2 separate regions of the Homo sapiens genome follow, and region 1 is linked to region 2. Evidence: fine-mapped expression QTL. A gene starts in region 2. The other region holds a variant in brackets. All regions are shown on one strand. Distances are from middle to middle. Region 1 overlaps LOC105369322 (a long non-coding RNA gene). Region 2 holds the start of MS4A15 (membrane spanning 4-domains A15).

What was found.
Region 1: its variant is fine-mapped to the expression of MS4A15 in lung (TOPMed, PIP 0.93).

The regions. Positions count from the first base shown.
Region 1 is chr11:60,821,122-60,829,453 of GRCh38, forward strand. The region is part of intron 2 of LOC105369322 (a long non-coding RNA gene); the gene reads right to left. Among named protein-coding and RNA genes, the nearest start is that of CCDC86, 17 kb to the right of the region's middle. The variant A/G (reference allele first, on the strand shown) is at 4,151.
Region 2 is chr11:60,752,190-60,760,521 of GRCh38, forward strand. MS4A15 (membrane spanning 4-domains A15) reads left to right here and starts at 4,678. Exons shown (of 7, transcript NM_001098835.2): 1 at 4,678-4,869. RefSeq lists a silencer at 1,288-1,499.

The DNA.
Region 1 (8,332 bases), 69 kb after region 2:
GTGTGGGCAGAAGTCTGTGCCTGTCTCCCGCTGATGTCAATGTGGGCAGCTGAGCAGAGAGTATGGGCCCAGCCAGGCACTGGAATCCTAGCTCCTCCGTTCTCTGCATGTGTGGCTCTGGGTCCCAGTTTTGAAAATGAGGTCTCTTTTACCTTGCCGTTGAGCACGAAACGATGGGAGGAGCGGAGCCTGCTGGGAGAAGCTACTCCTCTTGGGTGACAGAGAGGTGGAGTGTTGAGGGTGAGGTCAAAGTGCTGCTCTCAGGTCAGAGAAGCCTATTTGAGACAAATGATCGCAAACTTCTGGGCTTCAGCCTAGGCTGAGTCAACCCTGTGCCCTGGAAGGACAGGCTTGCATGTGCGGTATGGAGGCTTAGGGAACATGGGCAGAGGCAGGCTCCGATCCCACTCTGAGACCCCAGCTTCGTCCCTAGAATGCCATGAGCAGGGTGCTGCTCCATTCATGGGTGTGGTGAGAGCTAAATGACTTGGTGCACAGAGCAAGCTCGGTGCACTCAGGGCCAGCACCTTGGAGGTAACCAATGTGTTGGGCTTGATGCCTGAGATGGCCCTCACCCAAGCTTTCTAGGGTTCTGCAATCCTGCGGTGCCCCTGGGACGAAGAGGCCTGGTTCTGCGCCTGCCCTCACTGGCTGGGGAAGTTGGCAAGGTTCTTATTCTCTCCAGGCCTCTGTTTTCTTGGCTGCCAAGGAAGGAGGTGGATGGGGAGTTTGTCTAAGATCCTTTTCGGCAGAGACATGTGCACAGAGACCTGCCCAGCCACTCAAGTCCTGGGAGACACAGCCCCAACCCCGAAAGCCCAAGGCTTTAGCTCTGCGCCCTCCCCCCTCCACCCCCAGGCCCTGCAGATCATTATCAGCTGCTGGCAACTGGTGGCTGGCAGGTTGGGGGGCGGGCCGCATCCTGGCTGCCTCCTCGAGCTCCACCGAGTTCCCCACCACTTACTTGTACCCGCTGGCAGGAGGAGTGCTCCTGAGGACCCTGGAGATCCCACTTGGTGGTGGCCCAGAGACAGAGAGGACTGCAAAGACCAGGACTGCAGATCCTCCCTGCACCCTTGGGAGGGAGTTTGAGTCTGTGAAGTGGGAGTGAAGCTGCAGGGGGTGGAACTGTTCTGAGCTCGAGGGGAAGTTCCAGGCCCACCCCACATGGGATTGGATGGCCCAGGGGAGGCACTGGGCTGTTGAGGCGGCCAGCTAAAGAGCTGAAGCTGGTTCACAGCGTGTGGTGGGGGGAGTCGTGGCAAAGGGCCTCTGCCCCAATATATGCAGCCGAGGAAGGAGAAAGGTGGTGTCCCTGGGGACTTACCCCGAGGGTAACACTCAAGTCAAGGCGCTCAGCCACTACAATGAAACAAAAGCCCCTGGGACTTGATTTCTAGATCCAGATCTATCACTTAGCAGCCCTGTGACTTAGGCAGGTTGCCTCCTTCTCTCAGTCTTAGTTTCTCCATCTTCAAAATGAGAGACTAGTCCCTCCCACCTCCAAGCATGGGCCAGAGACCAGCATCTTTGGCATCACCTGGGAGCTTGTTAGAAATGCAGAGTCTCAGGCCAGCTCCAGTGGCTCAAGCCTGCAATCCCAGAGCTTTGGGAGGCTGAGGGGAGGATCTCTTGAGGCAAGGAGTTTGAGAACACCTGAGCAACATAGCACGACCTTGTCTCTACTAAAAATAAAAAATGTTGATATGCAACAAGATATAAAAAAGGAAAAAAAAATTAAAAAGGAAAACTAGCTGGGTATGGTGGTACATACCTGTAGTCCCAGCTACTCAGGAGGCTGAGGCAGGAGGTTCACTTGAGCCCAGGAGTTGGAGGCTGCAGTGAGCTATGATGGTGCCACTGCATTCCAGCCTGGGCCAGAGAGCAAGACCCTGTCTCTTAAAAAAAAAAATGCAGGCCAGGCATGGTGACTCACGCCTGTAATCCCAGCACTTTGGCAGGCCGAGGCGGGCAGGATCACGAGGTCAAGAGATCAAGACCATCCTGGCCAACATGGAGAAACTCCATCTCTACTAAAAATATAAAAATTAGCTGGGCATGGTGACACAGACCTGTAGTCTCAGCTACTTAGGAGGCTGAGGCAGGAGAATCGCTTGAACCTGGGAGGCAGAGGTTGCAGTGAGACGAGATTGCGCCACTGCACTCCAGCCTGGCGACAGAGCAAGAGGGAGACTCCATCTCAAAAAAAAAATTAAAAATAAAAATAAATAAATAAATAAATAAATAAATGCAGAATTTAAGCCCCACCGTACACGGGCTGAGTCAGTCTGCAGCTTAACAAGATCCCTAGGCGCTCATGTCCTCTGTCAAGTTTGAAAAGTACTGGACCAGTTACCTAGGAATCTTTCGGGCATTCCCGGCTAATTTTTGTATTTTTAGTAGAGACAGGGTTTCGCCACGTTGGCCAGGCTGGTCTTAAACTCCTGACCTCAGGTGATCTGCCTGCCTTGGCCTCCCAATGTGCTGGGATTACAGGCATGAGCCACCATGCCCGGCAGGTACCTAGGAATCTTTAGTGGCCCCCTTCTAAAATCCTATCTCACCAACCTATGCAGAGCCCAGTGGGGAGGACTAGATGCCTTTCTCTGTTCCCATAAGCCCCATTACTCCCTGTTGTCAGGCCTCTGAGCCCAAGCTAAGCCATCATTTTCCCTGTGACCTGCATGTATACATCCAGATGGCCTGAAGCAACTGAAGATCCACAAAAGAAGTGAAAATAGTCTTAACTGATGACATTCCACCATTGTGATTTGTTCCTGCCCCACCCTAACTGACACAATATATTCTCCCCTGCCCTTAAGAAGGTACTTTGTAATATTCAAAGTACCACTTTGTAATATTCAAAGTACCCTTAAGAAGGTACTTTGTAATATTCAAAGTACCCTTAAGAAGGTACTTTGTAATATTCAAAGTACCCTTAAGAAGGTACTTTGTAATATTCAAAGTACCCTTAAGAAGGTACTTTGTAATATTCAAAGTACCCTTAAGAAGGTACTTTGTTCGCCTATCCCAAACCTGTAAGAACTAATGATAATCCCACCACCCTTTACTGACTCCTTTTTCGGACTCAGCCCACCTGCACCTGGGTGAAATAAACAGCCTTGTTGCTCACACAAAGCCTGTTTGATGGACTCTCTTCACACGGACGCGCATGACACTTGGTACATGGCCCACTGTGCCAAGCCATAAATGCTCATGGCAAACCTTCCCTGCATTAGGGTTTCCAGGAGGCAGGTGCCTCTGGGCTCCCTGAGACCATCAATCTCCCTGCCTCTCTGTGCAGTTCTTAGTTTCAGGAGCAACCACCCTGGTCATCTCAGCAAACTGCACAGTTCCCCGGGTGAGTTTCATAGACATTTCTTCTGCCTCTGGGCACAGCTTATCCTGGAAGACCTTATATGAAAGTGGATGCTTGTGGGGCCTTTCCACAGGATGGTGGGCGAGTAGGGAGTGGGCCTTTGTCCGCAATCCTACTCACTGGCAGGTCTGAGCTCCTGACCATCCTCCTGTCCTATAGAAGCTTCCTGTATCTAATTTGAGTCTGTTTCTAGTCTCCTCTCCTTTACCACAGCTCCTCCATGCCTTTAATACAGCCTGGACCTCAGCAAGTCACCCCTAATCGGATAGGTTGCATGCAGACCCAAATGGCATTAAACTTGCTGGACCTCCTGGTTCGACCTCCAGAAAGGGGACTCCATCCCCACCAGAGCCGTCTGTTTTGAACCTAGGAAACTAGAATCCTAGGGCTGCTGTAACCAATTACCACACACCAGGTAGCTTAAAACAACAGAAACATGGCCGGGCCTGGTAGCTCATGCCTGTAATCCCAGCACTTTGGGAGGCCGAGGCAGGCGGATCACTTGAGGTCAGGAGTTCGAGACCAGCCTGGCCAACATGATGAAACCCCGCCTCTACTAAAAATACAAAAATTAGCCAGGCGTGGTGGCAGTTGCCTGTAATCCCAGCTACTCGGGAGACTGAGGCAGGAGAATTGCTTAAGCCCAGGAGGCAGAGGTTGCAGTAAGCTTAGATCGTGCCTGGGCAAGAGTGAGACTCCATCTCAAGAAAAAAAAAAAAAAGAAAGAAAACAGAAACCTGTAGTCTATGATTCTGGAGGCTGGAAGCCCAA[A/G]GTCAAGGTGCTGGCAGGATCGAGTTCTCTCTGAAGGCTCTTGGGGATAATGCTTTCTGGCCTCGTCCCAGCTTCCAGTGGTTGCTGGCAACTCTTGGTGTTCCTTGGCTCGTAGACACATCCTGCCAGTCTCTGCCTCTGTCATCAGGGGCTGTTCTCCCTGTGTCCCTTCCCTTCTTCTAAGGACACCAGTCATAATCCATTATGACCTCATCTTAACTCGATTACATCTGCAAAGACCCTATTTCCAAATAGATCCCATTCACAGGTACCAGGGTTAAGACTTCAACATATCTTTTGGGGGGATACAATTCAACCCACAAAAGATGGCAAATAGCTTTTCTATCGATGCGGCCCTGGTGGGTTCTGAGGATTGATGGATGTTGTCTGCCATGGACTTTGCAGGAAGAAGTGGCCACACATGTTGCTGTCTGTGCTCCTGCAACAAATCCATCTCCTGGCTATTAAGGCTGACATAGCCTCTGTGGCCCATGGGCTCCAGCAGGTGGAGCAGAGATGCTGTCACCTTGGTCACTGGTTCCTGGCTCCTAGGGCAAGTCAGTGGTTCCTCCAGGATCAAAAGCGTGCAAAGGAAGCCCGCAACACAGAGGGCATGTGAGCCAGCACTCTCCCCTTCCCGCTGGGTAGTAACTCGGGCTCCGGTCTCCTTAGCAGGTGAAGGTCAGCACAGGGCCAAACCTGGTCAGCTCACTGTGTGCCAGCCTCGGGGTGTGTGCCTTCATGGTTGAGCTGGCTGCCAGCAACAACTATACCCAGATCAGTGTCTCAGGCCCAGAGAATAAGCATCCACTCTTTGGGCACCATTTAATCCTAGAAACCACCACCAAGAGATATTTTCTTATCCTCTATTGTCAAAGTTAAAATGGGGAGTGGGATTTTTTTTTTCTTTAAATACAGACAGAGCCTCGCTAACTTGCTCATGCTGTCCTCAAACTCCTGGGCTCCAGCGATTCTCCTGCCTAAGCCTCCTGAGTGGCTGGGACTCCAGGCAGGTACCATGACACCCAGCTTTTGGGAGTAGGGTTTAAGTGTTTAGCAATTACCTCCAGATTCCCTGAGGCAGAACTCCACCAGGATTTGACAGCCCCAGGTACTTCCCTCTGGACTAGTTTTTCCTGTGTTAATGCTGATGTGGTGGCTCTTTAGGAGGCCAAGGCGGGAGGATCGCTTGAACCCAGGAGTTTGAGACTAGCCTGAGAAACATGGTGAGGCCCACTCTCAACCAAAAATATTTTTTTGAAAAAAATTAGCCAGGTATGTTGGTGCAGGCCTGTAGTCCCAGCTACTTGGAAGGCTGAAGTGGGAGGATTGCTTGAGCCCATGAGTTCAAGGCTGCGGTGAGTTATAATCATGCCACTGCACTCCAGCCTGGGTAACAGAGTGAGCCCCTGTTTCTTAAAAAAAATAATAATCATTTGCTTGGAGGAAGATATTCCAGCTGCTTGCCTCCTACCAAGGACGTTCCCCTGTAAGAGCATAGAGGTCAAGGGTGCATTAGGAGGACTGCCAGCATAATAATACCTAAGATTTATCAGTGAGTCCTGCCTTCTGGCTGTGGCCATTGAGGTCACATCTTTTCAAAGACATGTGATTATGTCATGAGATTGCTACCAGGGACCTGGACGTGGCAAAAATGGGGCTGGGAATACTGGGGGAGGAGTTTCCTCTGCTCTCATCCTAGGGAAAGAGAGGAAAGGAGAAACACTCTCTTCAGGTGGGTCTGACACACCATGCAGGGGCGAGGGACACACTGCCCACTGCTGCCCACACTTTGACCACTTCAGTGACCCAGCTGCCCCAGAATCCCCGACCTTCCCCTGTAGCCTGGGGTCCCTGAACGGCCCCAAGACTCAACTTCCTGCCCGTGACCTCACGTGAAACTGATCTTCACCCAGCCCCTCTCTGTGCTTTCCTTATCAGTAGAGGACAAATCATTCCTCCTAGGCCCCCACGACCCTAGTCCACTGTGTTCACCTTCCCTAGCTGCTCTCTCCTCCATCCATGCCTCTCCCTCTCCTCTGGTCCAGAAACTCAAGTCCCGGAGACCCCGTGTCCCTCTCTGACTGTGGTCTCCCCTCTCTTCCCTTTCACAGCAACAATCTCCTACGGACTCCATCTCCTCCTCTCCCGTCTCTACAGACCTCAAGCCCTCTCAGGGCAGCCGCCAGTAGCTTACTGCCAAATACATGCTTTTCCATGTATTTTCTTACTTGACCTTTCTGTACTTTTTTGCTGATGGGTGTCAGTCTGAATGGTTGACCACATGGGTCTTGGAATTGGATGGGTCTGAATCCCAGCTTTCACATACCAGCTGTGTGGCTTTGGACAAGTACCTCAATTTTTCTGAACCTCTGTTTCATCCTCTGTGAAATGGGGCTAATCAGAGTAGCTATCTAATAAGGCAACTAAGATTAAAATAAGCACGTAACAGGTGCTCACTAGATGACAGGTCACTCCCCTTCTAGAAAGCTTCCCTTCTTTTATCCATCTCCTTGGTCAGAATCTGCAGACTGATTCCGGGACTGGCTGGCCTGTAAAACTGCCCAGTTTTTGCAGGCTTTGCACCCTGGTTTTGCAGGTGCCCTGGAAGAGTCTCTCGGTGCTGCTGCTGTTCTTCACCATCCTGGCACTAGGCATCGCCTTCTTGTCTACCTTCCTGGGCTTCCATGCCACCTTCTGCTACACCCAGCTGGTGAGTGGGTTGGCAAGGTCTCTGCAGGACAGGCAGGCCCTCACTCGATCCCCAGAGCCTGGACAGGGGAGCCGAGGGAGGAGGGACAACAAGAGGGCTGTGTGGGGAGTGGCAGGCAGAACCCCTCCTGCCATCCTAAACCATCTGTACCATGGCCGTGCTGAGCCCCACTTGGTCTACACTGGGGAGATGCTGTCTTGAAGGACATGTGAGAACAGGGAGGTGGCTAGGGAAGAAGATGTTTACAAAAGCTTATAGCTCAGCACCAAGGTAGAACTGACTAGGACAAGTGCCGCATGGTGCCGCCAGATTCTGGTGGTGGCAGCCGATGCTGCAGGAAGGAAGGGCAGCGGTGAGGCTTCTGGATCCTGGCTGACAACTATAGCCTTACATGCGCTGGGAGACGGTGGTTACAGCAGCTCCCTCCATCAAGGGGCTTCCACAAGCTCCTTCCCCCGACCCTCATGACAGGCCTGAAGGGGCAGGGAAGAGACTGACCACGTGTCACAGATGAGGAAACTGAGGCCCAGAGAACTAAGGTGACCTGGCTGAGATCACATCCATCCCCAGAATCCAGGTACGACTCCCGGGCAACCTTCTCCTCAGGGAAGACCAGAGCTACAAGAAGGACTCAGCCCAAAGCACAAGGTCTGGGGGCTCAGGCTACCACCACGTGGTCTGTGGAGGGCTGTGGGCAGAGAGGAAAGCCTGGATCGCCAGAGAAAGCACAGAAGGAAAACCTAAAAGGATCACAGGGTCACATGGGCTGCTTCTGGGCTGACTAAAGGCGAGTGGCCTTGGCCCTTCCTTCTTCTCCCGACTCCAGTACCTGAACCCAGCTCAGGAACTTCCCACGGCCACAGCAGCCACTCCCAGGATCCACCCACCAGGCCCCACAGCCCCCAGCCACAGCCTGCACTCAAGGCATCTGCTGATCCTGGGAGCTGAGCTCCTCCCAGCATCTGACCTCTGGGGCTCTGCGATCTTCCCCTTCTCCTGGCTGCAGGGTTGGCCTTCCCTTTGTAACACCCAGCCCCAGAGGTCACTACCCCCATCCTCATACACACCCCAGCATGGAGATGGGTCTGCTCTTTCTGTCTAAGAAACATCCCTCAATGTCGCTGTTTTGCTGTCAACAAAAAGTTGACATGTGGCTTGGGTCACATCCACCAGGATTTAGTGACTAAAGTTGCATATCTTGTCCGTGTGTGTGCACAGCAGGGACCCTAGGTGTCTCACGTCTGTATGTGTGGATGGACAAGTATCCACCTGTTCCCCCACTTAATGGATTTGTTACTGGAAACCCTGCTGCTAAGTGAGAAGCTGTTAAATAAAAATATTTTCATGAATGCGGCCAGGCACAGTGGCTCACGCTTGTAATCCCAGCACTTTGGGAGACCGAGGCAGGCAGATCACTTAAAGTCAGGAATTCGAGACCAGCCTGGCCTACATGGCAAAACCTCGTCTCT
Region 2 (8,332 bases):
TGGGAGTCTGGGTCCATTCCTGTTCTGCCGCTGAGGTGCTGTGCAACTGGAAGGAAAATACTCGTCCTCTCTGAACTTCTGTTTTCTTATCTCTAAATCACACGTAATAATCCATGCCTGCCTCTCCCTTAGAGTGAGATGCGGGCTGTAAATGTTCATTATTACATCTGAGGAAGGGAAAGACCGATGGGCGGGGTGGGTCCCCCCTCACCCCAAGTTCTTCATTATTCTGCCATGTGTTTCTCTTGTCCAGTGTTCATGGACTCCCAGCCAAGGCAATCTCTAGCAATGTCCTCAGAAACTGTAGAGTCTCCCCAGATATGTCCATTTTGTGCTGCTATCACAGAATACCCAAGACTGGATAATTTATAAACTTCAGAAATGTATGCCTCACAGCTCTGGAGGCTGAGATGTCCAAGATCAAGGTGCCAGCAGATTTGGTGTCTGGTGAGAGCCCCATTCCTCACTTACTTCCGAGGTGGCGCTTTGTTGCGGCATCTTCCGTGGGGGACAAATGCTGTGTCTTCACATGATGGAAGGCATAAGGGCAAAAGGACCTAAGCTAGTTCCCTCTCTGCCTTTTATAAGGCATGAGTCTACTAATAAGGCAGAGCCCTCATGACTTAACCATTTTCCAAAAGGCCCCACCTCCTAATGCCATCACGATGGAGATTAAGTTTCAACATGAATTTTGGAGGGGACACATTCAAACCACAGAAGGTGGGGAAGAAGAAAGAGATTGAAGAAGAGAGAAAAAGGAAAGAGAAGGAGCGTGGGGCAAGGGAGATGGGGACAGCAGGGGAGCAGGCAGAGGACCCTTGTTTTGGGTCCACGTCCTCCCTGAAGACATCCCTGAGTTCCACAATCAGGAACCCTTCTCCCTCCCCCCACCGAGCCTCCTCTACCTTGCTAGTCTCTGAGAGCAGGACATCCAGCCTTAATTCATCGTTGCATTCCCAGTCCCTGAACTTGGTGCTCATAGTAAACACTTAACAATTGTTTGTTGGACTGAATTGCAAACTGCTCTTGCTCCTCCTACTAAACTCTAAGTCCTTTGAGGACATGGACTTTGTGTTTTACTCCTGTATGGATTCATTCTGGGAAAATATAACAATCAGGAGAAACTTAAGTTATGCTGCTATAACAAACAGCTGAGTGGCTTAACACAACAAAGGTTTATTTCTTCCTTCTGTTCTATGTCTCCTGGAGGCTCTGTTCACTCAGGGACCCAGATGGATAAGGCAGGCTCTGCCTGGAACACTGATAGTCACTGTGACAAAGGGAAAAAGAGCCCTGCAGAGTCACGTGCTGACACCTAAATGCTCCACCCAGAAGCTATGCGTTTACTTCCACTTGCATTGGTTTAACCAAAACAAGTCACGTGGCCATGCCAAACTTGAAGGCACCCAGAATGTAAGGGCTGGGAACAATAGGGAGATAACAGTTGTGTCTGGCACTGGAGACAGCAATAGGGGGCACAGATGCAGACTCTGCGGATGGCCAAACTTGGACTTGAATCCCAGCTCAGCCATTTCATGATATATCACCTTGAGCAAGTCCTTTCACTGCCCTGAACCGAGGTTATCACAGCCGTAAAAAAAACTTTCAGGAATTATCAAAGGACCATTGTGAGGATAAGAAATAACTTATTTGAAGTGCCTAGGAAAGAGCAAGTCCTCAAAAAATGTTTATGATAAGCTCTTATTAACCTGGCACCAGTGCAGAAACAATGTGGGGCTCTATCACTGTTAATTGGTTTAGAAAGTTCCAGAGAGGGCCAAGCGCAGTGGCTTGTACCTGTAATCCCAGCACTTTGGGAGACCAAGGTGGGTGGATCACCTGAGGTCAGGAGTTCAAGACCATCCTGGGCAGCATGGCCAAATCCTGTCTCTACTAAAAATACAAAAATTAGCTGGGCATGTTGGTGACGCCTACAGTCCTAGCTACTTGGGAGGCTAAGGCAGGAGAATTGCTTGAACCTGGGAGGTGGTGGTTGCAGTGAGCCCAGATTGCGCCATTGCACTCCAGCCTGGGTGACAGAGCAAGACTCCATCTCAAAAAAAAAAAAAAGAAAGTTCCAGAGAGGTGAGTGATGAGATAGGATCATTAGCAACATCATCTTGAAACCCTCCCCCAAAAGTGAACCCCAAAACATTCACAGCACCTCACCAATCTCCAAGGACTTTCTTACCATTTTCGACCCTCACAATAAACTGAGGCACAGTGAGCAGCCTTCAGTATCTTTATTTTTATTTTATGGAAATGTAGACTAGCTCAGTGCCATTTCACATTTTGCCCAAAATCACAGCAAATAATCAAGATAAACAACTAGGATAGGCAATATTTAGCAATGTCCTCAGAAACTATATAGTCTTTCCAAATACGTCCATTTTGTGCTGCTATAACAGAACACCTGAGACTGGGTAATTTATATAGAACAGAAATTTATGCCTCACAGTTCTGGAGGCTGAGACATGCAAGTTGAAGCAATAGCTAAAATTTAATGAGTGTTTACTATGTGCCAGGCAGTGTTCTAAGAATGGGGTTGGCAAATTACAGCCCACAGATCAGACCTGGCTCACCATCTGTTTCTGTAAATAAGTTTTTGTTTTGTTTTGTTTGAGACAAGTTCTCACTCTGTCACTCAGGCTGCAGTGCAGGGGCGCAGTCTCAGGTCACTGCAGCCTTGACCTCCGGGGCTCAAGAGATCCTCCCACCTCAGCCTCACGAGCAGCTGCGACATGTGTGTGCCACCACACCTGGCTATTTTTTTGTATTTTTTTTTGGTAGGGGTGAGGTTTCACCATGTTGCCCAGGCTGGTCTCAAACTCCTGAGCTCAACCAATCTGCCCACCTCAGCCTGCCAAAGTGCTGGGATTACAGACATGAGCCACTGCACCCAGGCATAAATAAAGTTTTATTGGAACACAGCCACACCCATTTGGGTATATATTGCCTATGTCTGCTTTGCACTACAATGGAAGAGTCACGTGTTTGCAATCGAAGTTATATGGGTCCCCAAAGCCCAAAATATTTACTATCTGATTCTCTCTTTTTTTTTTTTTCTTTTGAGATGGAGTCGCGCTCTGTCACCCAGGCTGGAGCGCAGTGGCGCGATCTCGGCTTACTGCAAGCTCCGCCTCCCAGGTTCACACCATTCTCCTGCCTCAGCCTCCCGAGACTACAGGCACCCGCCAACACGCCCGGCTAATTTTTTGTATTTTTAGTAGAGACAGGGTTTCACCATATTAGCCAGGATGGTCTCAATCTCCTGACCTTGTGATCCACCCGTCTTGGCCTCCCAAAGTGCTGGGATTACAGCCGTGAGCCGCCGTGCCCGGCCTACTATCTGATTCTTGAAAAAAGTTTGCCAACCCTGCTCTGAGTAGTTGTCATGTCTACTAATAATCAGGTTAGTGTCAGATCCTGGAAATGAGAGACTCAGTGGAGACGGTGCTATTTGGGAAGTCACAGCACAATCCCTCTGGTGATCCACTCTGAGCATCACGTGTTGGTCACACCTCCTAGGCTGAAGGGAGCCATGTTAGTAAGCCCTTAAAAATGTCAAATGGCTTCCCCCACCCCTTAATGCCAGCAGATTCTTATCCTGTGTTTTCTCAGCCATCTCCTTGGAGGTGCCTCCAGTCACTGAAAACCTTGCTCAAGAGCCTATGTGTCCTTTTCGCTCTATTTCTCTGCATAGGGTCCAACGCTGTCCCTTGCCCCCTTTGTTCACCAATATAGGTCAGACCTATCACAAAATAAATGGCACAGAGGCTTCCTGAAGACACACATATTTTGAGCACAGAACAGTGAGGCTGAGCCCTTATCAGCCAAGAGCGCTTGCAGAACCACAGAGAATCTGCTGCACAATCTGCAAGCTGGTGCTCTCCCGAGCATGCATAGTAGGTCTCAGAGCACTGGGAAGCAATGCACATCCACGGTCCATTGTAAGTCACTGGCTTAGATATGTTATATTTAACAAAACATCTCAGCCGCATCGTGTTATAACAAGTCACGTTGTAAGGGATGGATTTTATCAAGTTGGTGTGTGTTTCCCACCAAACTCTATGAGATTGGTATTATCCCTATTTCACAGGTAAGGAAACTGAGGCAGAGGGTGACCCTCTCGCTCCCGTGCCTCACAGTAACAAGAGGAGCCAGAATTCAAACCCTGGCTTCTATCTCAGACCCTTACACTGAACTGGTAAACTCCTCACACACCCATGCCAACAAGAAGGATGACTGTTTTCGATCTCATTGTATAATCTGGCAGATTCAGCACTCTGTTGTTTCCTGGTAAGCTCATCTCCTGACACCTGGGTAATGGGTGTTTTTTCCCAAAGTGTTTGCCCAGGCCAGCCACACCTAAAGTGTTGGGGTACATGGCAACATATCCAAGCTTATGTACGTGGCATTTGAGGTCAGGGCATGGAAAAATACGGAGGCACTGTGTGTATGTTATTTGTGCATAAGAATGTAACTCCTTGGCCCTAAAAACAGGACAAGGAGTGAAGTGTGTCATAAGGAACGCTGAAAACAGCCTCCTAAGAATGTGGTTTGAGAGCTTTTGCAAGGCCGCAGGTGTCTCATGACCCCACCTCAAAAAGCCATCTAGTGGATGTTTGTGGTTTAACAATCCCTTTCAATAAATACTTGGCGGACAGATGCTAGGGCAGGCTCTCACAAGGGCGGGCTCTCAGAAGAGCTGCCCCCACCCCCTCTCCCAGCCCCCTTCAGCTGAAATTGTCTAAGAACTCATTCTTGGCGTTCACTGCAAGCTATAAGCTCTGCAAGTGGTGACCCCGACGTGATCGCCTTGAAGTTACGCTTGAAGGAGGAAAACTCATCAATTTTCGGGGAATCCCGGTAAGGGACAGTCCTGACTCCCGTCAGGAGGATGGGACCCACGCGTAAAATATCAGGGGTTGGATTATCATGGGTCAAGAAATGACCAAAGAACAGAAAGTGTTTTTTAAAAACAGTGCGACAGCTACTTAAGGCTAACCAGTGCACTGCAGAGCCTGGAGCTCTACACAACGCTATGATCTTAATTCGGCAGGAATGCCCTTGGTTTCCTGATCAAGGAACCTTAGACTTGAGTTATGGAGCAGGTAGGTCACTGCCTGAAAACAGGATGTGAGCAAGGTCATTTTACTGAGGTTATTGTTTTGACCACCTGGGCGCCGGTACACTCGGTGTTGTATCCTCTTTATCTGCCAGATTGCAGTGGGTCAGACCGCCCGTCTTTGCCTGAAGGGAATTCAGGAGGTTTAAAGGAGAAGGAAGAACAGGAGCCAACCAGGACAGCGGGAGGCGGGCGGGGGGTCCTCTCTCTACTTCATTCCCTTCTGTAGGGCATAAGGAGGATATTTTTTTCTAGTGATCATGAGGACGGACCGGAGCCTTTTCCTCCCCCTATAGAAAAGCCATTGCCCTCTTTTCCTCCACCCTTAAAGGGACCTGTATTCGTTGGCCCCGTTCAGGCAATGGCGCCTCCCATCCCCCTTGAGGAGTCTGGAGGCCGCCCAAGAGATGGTTCTTGGATAAGACCTCCAGTCAGTGAATATCTATATGATCGGGTGGCCGTGTCCTCAACGCCAACTCCTCGTCAAACTTTCTTAGTAGAGGGGTGCCTCCAAGAGGGACTTAGGAAGGGAGACTCTGAGGCGCTTTTTGGCGCATTCCCTGTTATTGTTCAAAGCAACAGGAGATGGCATGAGAGTTTGCCTTTTACTGTCTTTAAAGAGTTAAAGAAAAGTATCCGTGAAAACAGTGTACATTCACCGTTTACGAAGGAGGTGATTGAGGCTCTGGGAAATGGCTATAAGATGACTCCACATGATTGGAAAACTTTGGTAAATGTTTTGGTTTCAGCTGCAGAATATACTGTGTGGTGGAGTGAGTACAGTGATTTAGCCATGCAGCAGTCCTTGCAAAATTTGGATAATAATATCCCGATACAACTTGATATGCTATTGGGAACAGGGCCTTTTGCTTCAGCTCAGACTCAGGGTCAAGCAGGTGGCCATCTATTTCCTCAATGCTCACAGCTAGCAATACAAACATAAAAAAAAAAAATCCCGTAAGACAATCCCAGGGTTCCTTTATAACAGTTAAACAAGGTGCCACAGAAACATACATTAAATTTATCAACCGACTGCAAGCTGCAATTGAAAAACAGGTATCCCATCCTAAGGCTACCAAACTTCTTATGTTACAATTGGCTTTTGAAAAAGCAAATAAGGATTGTCAGACAGCAATAACTCCAGTCTAAGCCACTGCCACTGAAATCAGTGTGTTTATTAAAGCATGCCAAAATATAGGCACTACAACTCATCTGACTCAAACTTTTGCTGCAATAATGACCGGAACCACATATTGTAATTGTGACCTAACCAGGCATATGGCAAAAATAACCCTGCTACTGTTTTCCTACCTTTAAGCAAAAAACAATTTCATACTCTTCTAGCTTGTGCTCTTGATTGGCAAATCGCAATAGCTGACTTTATTGGTAATATCAGCTTTCATTTACCAGCCTCTAAGCTCCTGAACTTTTTACAAACTGTGCCTGTTAAATTTGTATCTATTGTTGTTTCTGAGCCCTTGCTTCATGCCACTACTGTCTTTACAGATGGTTTAGGAAAAACTGGAAGAGCAGCTACAGTGTGGCAATAGGCCATGCAAAAATGGCAGCACAAAATCCAGGAACATTTTAAAACCACGCAACAGGCAGAGTTAGGTGCCCTGATATTGGCCTTACAAACTTTTCCTCACCAAGACATAAACATAGTTAGTGATTCCGCTTATGCGGTGTGTAGTATTACTCATTTAGATCTTGCACATGTGAAGGGCATTACTAATGAACCCCTACTAGCTTTGTTTCTTGCAGCGTAAGAGCTCCTCTGTGACCATCATTGTGGGGAAAAGAAAGAGAGATCAGACTGTTACTGTGCCTATGTAGAAAAGGAAGACAAAAGAAACTCCATTTTGATCTGTACAAAGAAAAATTGTTATGCTTTGAGACGCTGTTAACCTGTAACTTTAGCCCCAACCCTGTGCTCACAGAAACATGTGCTGTACTGAATCAAGGTTTAAGGGATTTAGGGGTATGCAGGATGTGCCTTGTTAACTATATGTTTGCAGACAGTATGCTTGGTAAAAGTCATCGCCATTCTCCATTCTCTATTAACCAGGGACACGATGCACTGCGGAAAGCCGCAGGGACCTCTGCCCAAGAAAGCCTGGGTGTTGTCCAAGGTTTCCCCCGACTGAGACAGCCCGAGATATGGCCTCGTGGGATTGGAAAGACCTTACCATCCCCTAGCCCGACACCCGTAAAGGGTCTGTGCTGAGGAGGATTAGTAAAAGAGGAAGGCCTCTTTGTGGTTGAGATAAGAGGAAGTCCTCTGTTTCCCACATGTCCCTGGGAATGGAATGTCTCGGTGTAAAGCCGACTATTCGTTCTATTCTGAGATAGGAGAAAACTGCCCTGTGGCTGGAGGCGAGATATGCTGGCAGCAATACTGCTCTGTTACTCTTTACTAACTGAGATGTTTGGGTAAAGAGAAACATAAATCTAGCCTACGTGCACATCTGGGCACAGTACCTTCCCTTGAACTTATTTATGATGCAGATTCCCTTACTCACATGTTTTCCTGCTGACCTTCTCCCCACCATCACCCTGTTCACCCTGTTCTTCTGCCGCACCCCCCATGCCAAGATAGTGAAAATAGTAATCAATAAACCCTGAGGGAACTCGGAGACCGGCGCCGGTGCAGTTCCTCGCATGCTGAGTGTGCCGGACCCCTGGGCCCACCGTTCTTTCTCTGTACTTTGTGTCTTATTTCTTTTCTCAGTCTCTTGTCTCCACCTGACGAGAAATACCCACAGGTGTGGAGGGGCAAGCCCCCTTCGATCATCACCCTCTTTACATCACACATATTCACTCTCATTCTGGGCTACCTGGTCCCTTATCAGAAGGGAACGCTCGAGCTAATGCTCTGGTACACACACAGATGTGGTTTGCAGACTCTCCTGCTTTTTTGCGAATTCAAGCTGATCATGCTTTTTTTCCATCAGAACGCCTGCAGTCTTAAACAACAGTTTCATTTAACACTTGCTCAAGCTCACATGATTATTAAAACTTATCCTGATTGCCAATGGCATTCTCTTTCCCCTTTTTCCTTAGGACTTGGTGCCAACCCACGAGGTCTGGTGCCTAATGCTATCTGGCAAACTGATGTTACTCAGTATCCACCCTTTGGACGTTTTAAATCTCTCCATGTTACTGTGGACACTTATATAGACCTAATACATGCTATCCCCATGC